3 separate regions of the Homo sapiens genome follow, and regions 1 and 2 are each reported to be linked to region 3. The links are microRNA targets in miRTarBase. Many come from high-throughput screens and were not tested one by one. Region 3 holds a microRNA gene; each other region holds the end of a gene's coding sequence.
What was found. The annotated mature microRNA hsa-miR-1180-3p reads UUUCCGGCUCGCGUGGGUGUGU and lies in region 3 at 1,942-1,963, shown strand. An mRNA with a match to its seed (bases 2 to 7 or 8) in the 3' UTR can be bound and repressed. Matches are read on the target gene's strand: a 7mer-m8 pairs with bases 2 to 8, a 7mer-A1 pairs with bases 2 to 7 and ends in A, and an 8mer does both.

Region 1: miRTarBase lists GPI as a target of hsa-miR-1180-3p. The part of its 3' UTR that is shown has no 7-base or 8-base seed match.
Region 2: miRTarBase lists SRSF4 as a target of hsa-miR-1180-3p. The part of its 3' UTR that is shown has no 7-base or 8-base seed match.

The regions. Positions count from the first base shown.
Region 1 is chr19:34,399,650-34,403,804 of GRCh38, reverse strand. GPI (glucose-6-phosphate isomerase) reads right to left here. Exons shown (of 18, transcript NM_000175.5): 17 at 4,020-4,086; 18 at 1,392-3,904. The coding sequence ends at 3,769. Among named protein-coding and RNA genes, the nearest start is that of PDCD2L, 2.7 kb to the left of the region's middle.
Region 2 is chr1:29,145,143-29,149,297 of GRCh38, reverse strand. It overlaps SRSF4 (serine and arginine rich splicing factor 4), which reads left to right. Exons shown (of 6, transcript NM_005626.5): 6 at 72-1,555. The coding sequence ends at 888. Among named protein-coding and RNA genes, the nearest start is that of TMEM200B, 23 kb to the right of the region's middle.
Region 3 is chr17:19,342,321-19,346,475 of GRCh38, reverse strand. MIR1180 (microRNA 1180) reads left to right here and starts at 1,902; the gene lies at 1,902-1,970. B9D1 (B9 domain containing 1) reads left to right here. Exons shown (of 7, transcript NM_015681.6): 6 at 2,619-2,686; 7 at 3,015-3,301. The coding sequence ends at 3,157. RefSeq lists an enhancer at 586-880 and a silencer at 586-880.

The DNA of each region.
Region 1 (4,155 bases), not on the chromosome of region 3:
AGGCACATGGAGATTTATTCTATTTGGGTTTTATATGTTTGAGATTTTTCAGTTTTTATTTTTGTTTTGTTTTGTTTTGTTTTTGAGACAGAGTCTTGCTGGGTCGCCCAGGCTGAAGTGCAGTGGCGCCATCTCACTGCATCTCAGCCTCCCAGGTTCAAGTGATTCTCCTGCCTCAGCCCCACCCAGTAGCTGGGGTTACAGACGCCCACCACCACGCCCGGCGCCCGGCTTTTTTTTTTTTTTTTTTTTTAGACGGAGTTTCGCTCTTGTCGCCCAGGCTGGAGTGCACTGGCGTGATCCCAGCTCACTGCAACCTCTGCCTCCCAGGTTCAAGCGATTCTTCTGCCTTAGCCTCCCGAGTAGCTGAGATTACAGGCATGTGCCACCATGCCTGGCTAATTTTGTATTTTTAATAGAGATGGGGTTTCTCCATGTTGGTCAGGCTGGTCTCGAACTCCCAACCTCAGGTGATCCGCCCACCTTGGCCTCCCAAAGTGCTGGGATTACAGGCGTGAGCCACCATGCCCGGCCTTTTTTGTATTTTTAGTAGAGACGGGGTTTCACCATGTTGGCCAGGCTGGTTTCGAGCTCCTGAAATCAAGTGATCTGCCCACCTCGGCCTCCCAAAGTGTTAGTATTACAGGTGTGAGCCACCGCGCCCAGCCACACAATACAGTTTTTTCAATTCCTGCAGCACAACATGGGTGAATTTCAAAAGCATCATGGGAAGAAGCCAGACACAAAAGGCGCCATTCTGGTAAACGCAGAACTTCGGAGGGAAAAAAATCAGTTCAATGGTAGTCAGGAGTTGGGATGAGGGAGTAGGACTGGACCACAAGTGTCAGGAACTTTTGAGGGTGAGGAAAATGCTGTATATCTCATCTGTAATGGTTCTAAGACTGTATATACACTTGTGAAAACTCATAACTGTATACCAAAGAAAGGTGAATCTTACTATATGTAAATCACACCCCAATAAACCTGACTTTTTAAAAATGCAGGCTGCAAAAACATTATTTTAGGATTCATAACGTGGTATGCAAAAGAAATGAATGTTTTCAAGGATTTACACCTCAAAGGAGGAAGCACCAGCCTTTGTGAGGTTTGGCTCTAGCCCAGCAAGGATCTGGAGATGAAACCCATTTACTCCTTTTTTTACCACACTTCATCCTGATAGCTTTAAAAGGCCCTGTGATGCTGGGCACAGTGGCTTGCGCCTGTAATCCCAACACTTTCGGAGGCCAAGGCAGGAGGATCTCTTAAGCCCAGGAGTTGAAGATAAGCCTGGGCAACACAGTAGTATTACCAGGGGAGGATCTTGACTACAAGTCGTCCAGGTTCTTGGAATATTGAACAAAGAGGTGGACAAAACACACAAAGCAACAAAAGAAGGAACAAAAGCACAGATTTATTGAAGCAAAAGTACATTCCAGAAAGCGGGATGAGGCTCAAGCAAGTGCCCTGTGTAGAAAATCTGGGGTTTAAGTACCCTTTAGAGGTTTCCTATTTGGTTACACCCTATGTAAATAAAGACTTGGCCTGCCACCAGTCAGAGGCTGAAGTGAATGCTCCTTTGTCTCCAGACCCTATTCTCTGGCCTCAGTGGGATCCTATCACTACAAAAATTTATTTTTTATTTTTCTTATTTTTTTTTTTTTACAACAGTACACTGATCTACAAAAATTTTAAAATGAGCCGGGCGCGGTGACTCACGCCTGTAATCCCAGCACTTTGGGAGGCCAAAGCAGGCGGATCATGAGGTCAGGAGATCAAGACCATCCTGGCTAACACGGTGAAACCCCGTCTCTACTAAAAATACAAAAAATTAGCCGGGTGTGGTGGCGGGCACCTGTAGTCCCAGCTACTCGGGAGGCTGAGGCAGGAGAATGGCGTGAAGCCGGGAGGTGGAGCTTGCAGTGAGCCGAGATCACACCACTGCACTCCAGCCTGGGCAACAAAGCAAGACTCTCAAAAAAGAAAAAAATTTTTTTTTAAATGAGCTGGGTGTACTGGCATGCATCTGCGGACCCAGCTACTTGGAAGGCTGAGGTGAGAAGATCACCTTAGCCTGGGAATTTGAGGCTTCAGTCAGCTATGATTGTATCACTGCAGTCCAGCCTGGGCAACAAAGACCCTGTCTCTAAGAAAAAAAAATTTTGAATAGGCTGGGTGTGGCGGCTCACGCCTGTAATCCCAGCACTGTGGGAGGCTGAGGTGGGAGATCTCTTGAGCCCTGGAATTCAAGACCAGTCTAGTCTGGGAAACACAGCAAGACCCGCCTTGCTGGGCGCGGTGGCTCACGCCTGTAATCCCAGCACTTTGGGAGGCTGAGGCGGGCGGATCACGAGGTCAGGAGATCGAGACCATCCTGACTAACACAGTGAGACACTGTCTCTGCTAAAAAAATATATAAAAAATTAGCCGGGCATGGTGGCAGGTGCCTGTACTCCCAGCTACACAGGAGTCTGAGGCAGGAGAATGGCGTGAACCTGGGAGGCGGAGCTTGCAATGAGCTGAGACCGTGCTACTGCACTCCAGCTTGGGCGACAGAGCGAGACTCCGTCTCAAAAAAAAAAAAGACCCGTCTCTCTACAAAAAATGAAAAAACTAGCAGGGCATAGTGGTACAACCTGTAGTCTCAACTACTTGGGAGGCTGAGGCAAGAGGATTACTGGCTGCAGTGAGCTGTGATCATGCCACTGCACTCCAGTCTGGGCAATGGAACAAGACCCTGTCTCAAAAAAAAAAAAAAGTTGTCAAAAAAAAAAAAAAAATGGGCCGGGCGTGGTGGCTCATACCTGTAATCCCAGCACTGTGGGAGGCTGAGGCGGGCAGATCACCTGAGGTCAGGAGTTCAAGACCAGCCTGCCCAACATGGTAAAACCCCTTCACTACTAAAAATACAAAAATTAGCTGGGTATGGTGGTGTGCGCCGTGTAATCCCAGCTACTCGGGAGGCTGAGGCAGGAGAATAGCTTGAACCCGGGAGGCGGAGGTTGCAGTGAGCCGAGATTGCACCACTGCACTCCAGTCTGGGTGACAGAGCGAGACTCAAAAAAAAAAAATTCCAGTTTTCAATATCTGCCTTTTAAAGCAAAAGAACTACCTGAGCGTCTTGCCAGGAGATGGCAGTCATCCTCGGTCTTGTCCAGGAATTCACCCGAAACAAACATAATCTCAATGCAGTTTTTAGAACCATCGAGTGAACAGAGTATCCAATTTCTGCAGTCACAGAGGTGAGGAGTGGAAAACAGTCTTGGGATTTGGTGACACAGGCCAAGTTGCCGTCCTGACTGATTGTGCCCCCACCCCACTATTGTCTTCTCAGGGCACCTTGCTCCACTCTAGACCCGCTCACCACTTAGTGTTAAGTGTCCGCAGAGGCACAGCCTGCGTCCTGCTGAGCGCTCCTGCCCTCTGCTACATAAAGCACCATCACAGGAAAAAAAAAATCAGAGGCTGAGCCTACAACCTCCTCCGTGGCATCTTTATTTTTCTACATGGGATGTGAACAACGTGAACATGGGTCAGAAAAGTCAGCTGCACAAAAACACTTCAGCCAATTCTAACACAGAGGGAGCATAGACATGGAGGGGCTGGGGGTTAGGCTGGGGGAGACCAGCCTTCCCTGCTAAGGGCTCGTGGTCCAAGCCCACAACCAGAGGGTGCTCTGGGTGGTGTCCAGGAACATGCAGTGCCGGCTCCGGGGAGGAGGGACGAGAAGAGAAAGGGGAGTCACAGAGGAGGCTGCAGATGAGCACGAGTTTATTGGACTCTGGCCTCGCGCTGCTGCTTGATGAAGTTGATGAGCCCATTGGTAGAAGCGTCGTGAGAGGTCACTTGAGCACTGCCATCAAGCTCAGGCTCTATTTTCTTAGCCAGCTGCTTTCCCAGCTCCACTCTGCCAAGAAGGGAAGGGAAGGGAAGAGTGGTATGAGGAAGGCTCTAACGTTGCTACTGAAATCCCTGAGCCGACACAAAGGTATTCCCGGCCCTCCCCTAAGTGAGCAACTCACCCCCACTGGTCAAAGCTGTTGATGTCCCAGATGATGCCCTGAACGAAGATCTTGTGCTCATACATGGCTGCAGAAGTGACAGACAGGGCACATCAGGGCTCCACAAGCCCATTCCAACCTACCCCAAGCCAGGACC
Region 2 (4,155 bases), not on the chromosome of region 3:
CCTTTGGTCTTTTTATCTCCTGATTAGCATGAAGTCACATGTGACACAAACAGTATCCCATGTCTCCTCAGGTCGGGCTCCCGCTCCCGGAGCAAGAGCCGGAGCCGGAGCCAGAGTCGGAGCCGGAGCAAGAAAGAGAAAAGCAGGAGCCCCAGCAAGGAAAAGAGCCGCAGCCGCAGCCATAGCGCTGGCAAGAGCCGCAGCAAGAGCAAAGACCAAGCTGAAGAGAAGATCCAAAACAATGACAATGTCGGGAAACCCAAGAGCCGGAGTCCTAGCAGGCATAAAAGTAAGAGCAAAAGTCGGAGCAGGAGTCAGGAGAGGAGAGTGGAGGAGGAGAAGCGAGGGAGTGTGAGCAGGGGCAGGAGCCAGGAGAAGAGCCTCCGCCAGAGTCGGAGCCGGAGCAGGAGCAAAGGGGGCAGCAGGAGCCGGAGCAGGAGCCGCAGCAAGAGCAAGGACAAGAGGAAGGGCAGGAAGAGAAGCAGAGAGGAGAGCCGCAGTCGCAGTCGCAGCCGCAGCAAGAGTGAGAGGAGCAGAAAGCGAGGCAGCAAGCGAGACAGCAAGGCGGGCAGCAGCAAGAAGAAGAAGAAGGAAGACACTGACCGCTCCCAGTCCAGATCTCCATCCCGCTCCGTGTCAAAGGAGCGGGAACATGCCAAGTCTGAATCCAGCCAGAGGGAAGGTCGAGGAGAGAGTGAGAATGCTGGCACCAATCAGGAGACCCGGTCCAGGTCGAGATCCAATTCCAAATCGAAACCAAACCTTCCATCAGAATCACGCTCCAGATCAAAGTCAGCTTCAAAAACCCGATCTCGGTCCAAGTCTAGATCCAGGTCTGCTTCCAGATCGCCCTCCCGATCTAGATCTAGGTCCCACTCAAGGTCCTAACTGGCTATGGCCACAGCTGGAACTACCCGAGAAGTCTTTTGTACATGTTTGGTAGCCGTAGCACAAGTGATTGGAGTAGAACATGTCACTGCTGTACATTTTTAACTCCCCTAATGGTGTGTCTATAATTGTTAAATCTAAGTGCTTCCTCTCAGTAAAGCCTCCTGGCACCAGGCCTTCCTGCTCGACTGAAAAAAATTTTCTCTTTGAAAATCCCCTTTTACTCATGGCCCACAGTAGAATATCCAAAACGCCTTGGCTTTCAGGCCTGGCCTTTCCTACAGGGAGCTCAGTAACCTGGACGGCTCTAAGGCTGGAATGACCACATAGGTAGGTATGGTGAGTTCAACCATTTTTGCTCTTGAATTGATGCCCTTCGATGTATGCCATTTAGTGAAAGTGCTAAGTCTTAAGTTTCCTACCACTTTGGTTTCATATTTTTGGACTTAACAAAGTTGTGAATAGCACAGTCGAGGAAAATTGATACCTGCAGTAACCCATAGGAAATAAACTGTAGAGTTCCATATTCTGGTATTGTGATTATATTGTTTTATATTAAAAAAGAAAAGAAAAGAATTTTTTTTAATTTTATTTTTCCCCGTCTTGCAAAGTATAGTGACCCCTGTTTCCATTAAATTTGAATAAAGACTATTTTTGCTTGACAAAATTTCATGGTGTTTGAATTGAAGTTGTACTTTCTGATATATCTTGATATGTCTTTTCTTAGCATAAAAAGTTCATGTGTAGGCCGGGCACGGTGGCTCACGCCCGTAATCCCAACAGTTTGTGAGGCTTAGGCAGACGGATCACAATGTCAGGAGTTCGAGACCAGCCTGACCAACATGGTGAAACCCCGTCTCTACTGAAAATACAAAAATTAGCCAGGCATGGTGGTACACGCCAGTAATCCCAGCTACTCAGGAGAATGAGGCAGGAGAATCGCTTGAACCCCGAGGGGTGGAGGTTACAGTGAGCTGAGATCACGCCACTGTACTCCAGCCTGGGCGACAGAGCGAGACTCCGTCTCAAAAAAAAAAAAAAAAAAAGTTCATGTGTAATGACTGTTTTGTTCCTTGGGATCACCCATCTTAGGGAACCAACACGTTCCTAAAGGATTTTTCTCACCAACAGAATAAAGGCAGGTTTCCGAGGAATTTATCATCCTTTCTCTTAAGAAACGTATGGCCAGGCTGATGAAGAATGAATCAGTTTGGAAACTTGGAGCATTACCAGATGAGTTGTTCATGAATATAGAGTTCTGTGCTGTTTGTCGAAATTGCCATGAATCTGCGGTATCATGATCTCATCACATTAAGATCTGAACTAATCAAAAACCAGGGGGAAAAAACTATACTGGACTTTTTTTTTTTTTTTTTTCCTGAGACAGTTTTGCTCTTGTTGCCCAGGCTGGAGTGCAGTGGTGCAGTCTCAGCTCACTACAGTCTCCACCAACCAGGTTCAAGTGATTCTCCTGTCAGCCTCCCAAGTAGTTGGGATCATAGGTACATGCCACCACTTCCGGCTAATTTTTGTATTTTTAGTAGAGACGGGGTTTCATCATATTGGTCAGGCTGGTCTCGAACTCCTGACCTGAGGTGATCTGCCCACCTCAGCCTCCCAAAGTGTTGGGATTACGGACATGAGCCACCGCGCCTGGCCTACTGGATAACTTTTGTCCTAATTATTCTTCCACTGCTTGTTTGGCCTAGCTCTCTAGGAGGTACCAGAAGTACAGTGGTTCCAATCTGGTCTCAGCCCTTGAGGGACTGTTGAGGGGCATCACAGCAGGGAGGATGCTTGAGGGCTTTCATTACATGCTGCAGCAAAATCTTGGGAAAGGAGATTCACTTGACTGCTGCCTGTGAATTTGTTGGGGGCTGTCCCTAGGCTTAAAACAACTGTCCTGTTGCTTCCTATAGACCAAAATCTTCGAATGCATTGGAAATACGAAAGTAGAGTGTCTCTTGCCCTCCTGGAGTTTGTGATCTAGTTGCTAGTGATGAAGGCAAAGTGGATATTCAGAGAACAGAGTCAGAACTTCATCTGGGATCAGAGGTAGCACTTAAGCTGAACCTTTTGGGGATGTAGGGTGGGACGCATTCCTATTGAAAGCCTGTGAGCATGGCTTTCATGGAGTTGGGAAAGCACAGGGTACTGTGCCCAGGAAACGTGGAGTTTGATACTGGAGAGTTAGAGTTTAACAAAATGGATTGTGTCATAGAGGGCCATGGATACCAGGAAGAGGAATTTGACCTTTATCCTGTAAGCACTGGGTAACATTGAAGGTATTTGAATAGGAGGGTGCGGGGAGTAGGGTTATGCTTCTAGACCTGACAGCATTGTGAAGGATTGGATGCAGGGAACCCAATAGTTCAGGGCATGCAACCCCAGATGATACGGGGCCTGCTTGATCAAAGCCATGATAGGAGGGAGCAGAAGAGGCAAGATTAGCAAGACTTGGCAAATGTCCTGGCAAAGGAGCTATCGGAAGCAGTCACAGAATGATGAGGCATCATCTGAGGAATGGGGAAGATGACAGGGGAAATTAGTTGAGTTTTGAAAACGTGTAATTTCAGAAACAGACGAGGCAGCCAAACCAAGGAACCTCACTCAGTTTCTGGAGAGTTTCCCAAACCTTTTTCTGGGCCCATTCTCGTGTCATCATGACAAGGTGATGAACCTAACCAGTAAAATTCCCACTGCCTCAGAGGATCTCATGCTGGTCTCCAGTGATGACGATAATTTATTATTCCGATTTTATCCCTATAAGGATAGGGATGTTTGTTGCGGCATTTTGTTTCTTTCAGGTTTTTTTTGTTTGTTTTGTTTTGAGATGGAGTCTGGCACTGTCACCAGGCTGGAGTGCAGTGGCACGATCTCAGCTCACTGCAACCTCTGCCTCCTGGGATCAAGCGACTCTCCTGTCAGCCTCCTGAGTAGCTGGGACTACAGGCACGTGCCACCACGCCCAGCTAATTTTTGTATTTTTAGTAGAGATGGGGTTTCACCATTGTTGGACAGGCAGATCTCGATCTCTTGACCTCGTGATCTGCCCGCCTCAGCCTCCCAAAGTGCTGGGATTACAGGCATGAGCCACCGCGCCCGGCACGCCCGGCTAATTTTTGTACTTTTAGTAGAGACAGGGTTTCACCATGTTGGTCAGGCTGGTCGCGAACTCCTGACCTGGTGATCTGCCTGCCTCGGCCTCCCAAAGTGTTGGGATTACAGGCGTGAGCAGCCGCATCAGGCATGTTTATGTAATTTAAT
Region 3 (4,155 bases):
AACATGGAGGACTCCCTGGGTTCCAGGGCAGCAGCCGGCAAGCAGCCCCTGCGAGCCTGGCCAGTACTGGGCGTGAGACCAGGCCAGAGCCCTGCTGGGTGGAGGGACAGCATCGCGCCCAGGGCCGAGAATGCTTCACTGAGCTCTGAGAGCCGTGGAGGGGAGGAAGGGCAGGGTCTCCGCTGGCCTCAGCCTGAGAATTTGTGTGCCTACTGCCCCTAGGAGTCCTTCTGGGAGGCCACCCTGTAGCAAAGGACTTCTTTCCCAGATGACCTGGGCCAGTATCACCTGGAGGTGACAATCCCCATGCCACAGGCTGTCAGGGAGGCAGCGAGGCAGTGCCCATCAGTGGGTTGGGAAAGCCTAAGAGACTGGGGACCCACACAGCCATCCAGGCTGGGTTATTCACCCTGTTCCACCGCCCACAGCTCCAAGGAGGACTTTGGGCCTCCAGGGGACAGCTCGCTGAGGAAAGGGTTTCACAGCCCCTGTGGAGGGGCTCGCAACTGGGCAAGGCAGTATGTGCTTGGATTACAAAAACTGGAGAAAGTTCTGATTAGTGAAGGCAGTTTGATTGGCAGAATCTTCCCAGATATGGAGGCTCCTTGCTCAGGCTGACACCTCGGTCATCCCCACCCCTCTCCCAGCCTCTCCCCACATCCTCCAGCGCTGGCCTAGGGCCTGCCCCAAACACTCTTGGCCACTGTATTCGTTTCCCACGGTGGCTGCTGCAACAAAACACACAAATGTGATAGCTGAAAACAGCAGAAATGTATGCTGAAGGCCAGAGTTCAAAATCCAGGTCACTGGGCCCAGAAAAGGCACCACAGGGCTGTGCTCCCTCCCAAGGCTCTAGGGGAGACTCTGTTTATTGCCCTTTCAGTTTCTGGTGGCCCCAGCCTTCCTTGGCTTGTGGCCTCATCACTCGAGTCCTGGCCTTTAGGGTCCACCTGGATAGTCGCCTCAAGATCCTTAGCCTAATCATATCTGTGCAAAGTGCACGTGACCCTGTTTCTCAATAAGGTCACGTGCACGGTTTCCCAGGACTAGGATCTGCTATCTTTGAGGGGCCGTCATTCAGCCTGCTGCCACCCCTCCAGTCTAGTCTTCACATAGCAAGAAAAACGGTGTTCCTAAAACACAACTGGGGCTGCACCCCTCCCCTGCTAGAACCTGTCTCTGTCAGAATGAACTTCAACCAGAATGCTGCCAGGCCGGTGGTCGGGCCCTGCCTACCTCATGGCCTCTGCCCACTTGCTTCCCATCTACCTCAGTTCCTGCAGTCTGAGGGGTCCTTCCTTGCCTCAGGTCCTTGCCTGGAATGCTCTCCCAGAACAGCCTGTCTTGTCTCCCCAACCCCAGCCAGCTAAGCAGACCACCCGGGTGGACCCCAGGAAAGAAATTCAGTGGGAACGGGAGCTCCATGTGAGCTCCGGGATGGGATCTGCTGGGCACAGTGGGGATGCTCCCAGGCCCCAGTCCTCATACATAGCCTCTTGTGAGGTGGGTGCTGTGAGAGTCTTGCTCTCCCAAAGGAGAAACTGAGGCGCAGGGGTTGTGGCTGCCCATCCCTTCCCCTTGGGGAGCGCCTGCTGGCTTTCACTCTCTGGCTCCCTCCTTGGGGTTGGGGGCTGGTGGGCAGTGCTCCCTGGCTGTGGTCTCCACAGGCCAACTCTGCGGCAGCTGAGAGCCCCTCCCTGGCCTGGGCCCCTCTGCAGCCGCCCCAGGTGAGCGCTGGTGCCCACCTCAGAGACGGAGAGGCCGCGGGGAGGGCGGTGCGTGGGCTTTTGGGTCGGCATGGTTGCCAGCGACCCTCGGGGCCGGGTGTGTCCGTGGGGGGACCTTGGGAGCTGTGGTACAGAGGAGGCGCGGCCGCGAGTCCCGGCGGGGCGAAGCCCGCGGCTGCTGGACCCACCCGGCCGGGAATAGTGCTCCTGGTTGTTTCCGGCTCGCGTGGGTGTGTCGGCGGCGGGGCCTGACACCCCCGGCCTCCTGGCCTCCCGCCTGGCCCAACTGGGGTCTGGGGCTGGGGAGGGCGCATGCTCAGCCTGGTGGCTGTGTGCCGCCCCTGGCAGGGCCTGCGGTGGGTGCCAAGATGGGAAGTGACATGTCCTGGACCCCACACTAGTGGGAGGTAAGGCTGAGGAGCCGTTCTGGCCCTTCTGCCCACCCCACAGACTCTCTGGGGTGGGACCCCCTTCCAGGGAGGCTGGAGGGTCACACTGTCCCCTCCCCTCCCCCACCTCAGCTGCTGTCACTTTTCTGGGATTTCTGGGGGTTCAGGTAGCACCCCCACCCCAGAATCTTCCTGAGCTCTCATTCCCAGTGAACCAAACCCATGGAAGCCAGAGATGGAAAAGCCTAACCGGCCAGCGGAGGCAGCGTGGCTGCAGAGCACATGAGGCCTGGCTAGGCTGTGTGACCTCGGCAAGGGACACCCCACGCTGGAGCCCAGCCACTGGGAAGGCTCTGCTTAGGGCCTGACTCCTGGTGGGGGTGGGGTGCGGTTGGAACAAGAGTGCTGGTTTCTGAACCGAGGAGAGCCCACATCCAGTGTCGTCCAAGACCAGGAATGCCCAGGTGGGGCCCTGCTCACCTGTGTTCTTCTGTGTTCCCAGCTGGTTCATGGGGCGGCGGCCCGAGTACACAGACCCCAAGGTGGTGGCTCAGGGTGAAGGCCGGGAAGGTAAAGCTCCCTCCCCTCTCTTACCCCCATCCCCCATACAGGTTACAGCCTGGGAGTGGGTGGGCCCAGGGTTGGGGTGAATGCCGGGGACCTGCCAGGCACATAGGAGCTAGCCCACAAATGTTCCCAGATGAGGGCCTGGTTGGAGCACAGAGGGTTTGTCATGTCTGCCTGTCCCGGCAGCCCCTTTACCTCCCAGTGAGGGGCTTGGGTCAGGCACTGTTGTCCCCATTTTACAGATGAGAACGCTGAGGCTGAGATTCCCAGATCAACCTGGGTCTCTCTCTGCCCCAGCCCAGCCTGGCTGATGCTGCCCTTCTGTCCCCAGTGACCCGTGTCCGTTCTCAGGGCTTTGTCACCCTCCTCTTCAACGTGGTGACCAAGGACATGAGGAAACTGGGCTATGACACTGGGCCTTCTGATACACAGGGTGTGTTGGGGCCCAGCCCACCCCAGAGCTTCCCCCAGTGAAGGCTCCACAGGCTGCACAGTCTCTGATAATGAAGGGCTGCCTTCCCGAAGTCAGCCGCTGCCCATCGGCCTGAGGGGCAGCCTGGTGGCCAGAGCTGGGGGCACACAGAATAGTTTTGTATAATAAAGTCTCATTTTCAGAGAGCCTAGGCCTGGGGCTGCCTTCTCTCCTGTTTAGCCCCTCCCCCACAGGAGCTGGGGGCTCTTGGGCCTTTCCTGGCCCCACCTCCAGGGCTCTCCCTGTCCCTACCCCTTGTGCCGTGGAAGCTGCCAGGAGACCAGACCGTGCAGCAGGATGGCATGTGGGATGGGAGCTTTGACATAACCAGGTTCTGCCACTCAAAGCTGTGTGGCCTTTTCTATACCGCAACACATTGTTCCTTGAACTAACTGGGCATGGCACCCTCCTTAGAGGCTTGGGGTTAAGTAGAATCACCCGTTCAGCCATGCTTCTGGCCACCAGCCTCCCTTGGCAAGGACAGAACCCTGTTATTGGGAGCTGGAATGGTGAGGTACCCCGGGGGATGGCAGACCCTCAGCCTGCCCACTCCCCTCTCTGCCCCCCTACCCACAGTCCAAGGATGGGGGCTGGAAACCTCTCAGAGGTGGGAGGCCGCTGGCTGGGGTCCAGCTTTCTGGCAGCCCCTTGGCAGGAGAGGAAGGTGAGCCCCCTGGCTCAACACCCTGACCTCTGAGGTTGTCCAGGCCCTTCTGGAAGCAGAGCCCCTTCAGCATTACTTTGGGAGGCCCTGACCCTGGGCCTCCCCACCTTCACAAGAACCCCTCGCACCTCACGAGGCAGCCCCAGGCCCTCTCTGCCCTGCCACTGAGCTTTCGGCAGACATGGTGCCCCAGCCTAGATACTGCCCTCAGCGGGATCCAAGAGAAACCACAGGCTCCTGGCAAACCCCCACCTCCCAGCCTCGCCCATGTTGCCCTGGACTGTCGTCATGGCACTTGCCCTGAGACCATCTGGGCCGACCCTCTTCTGCCTTTTA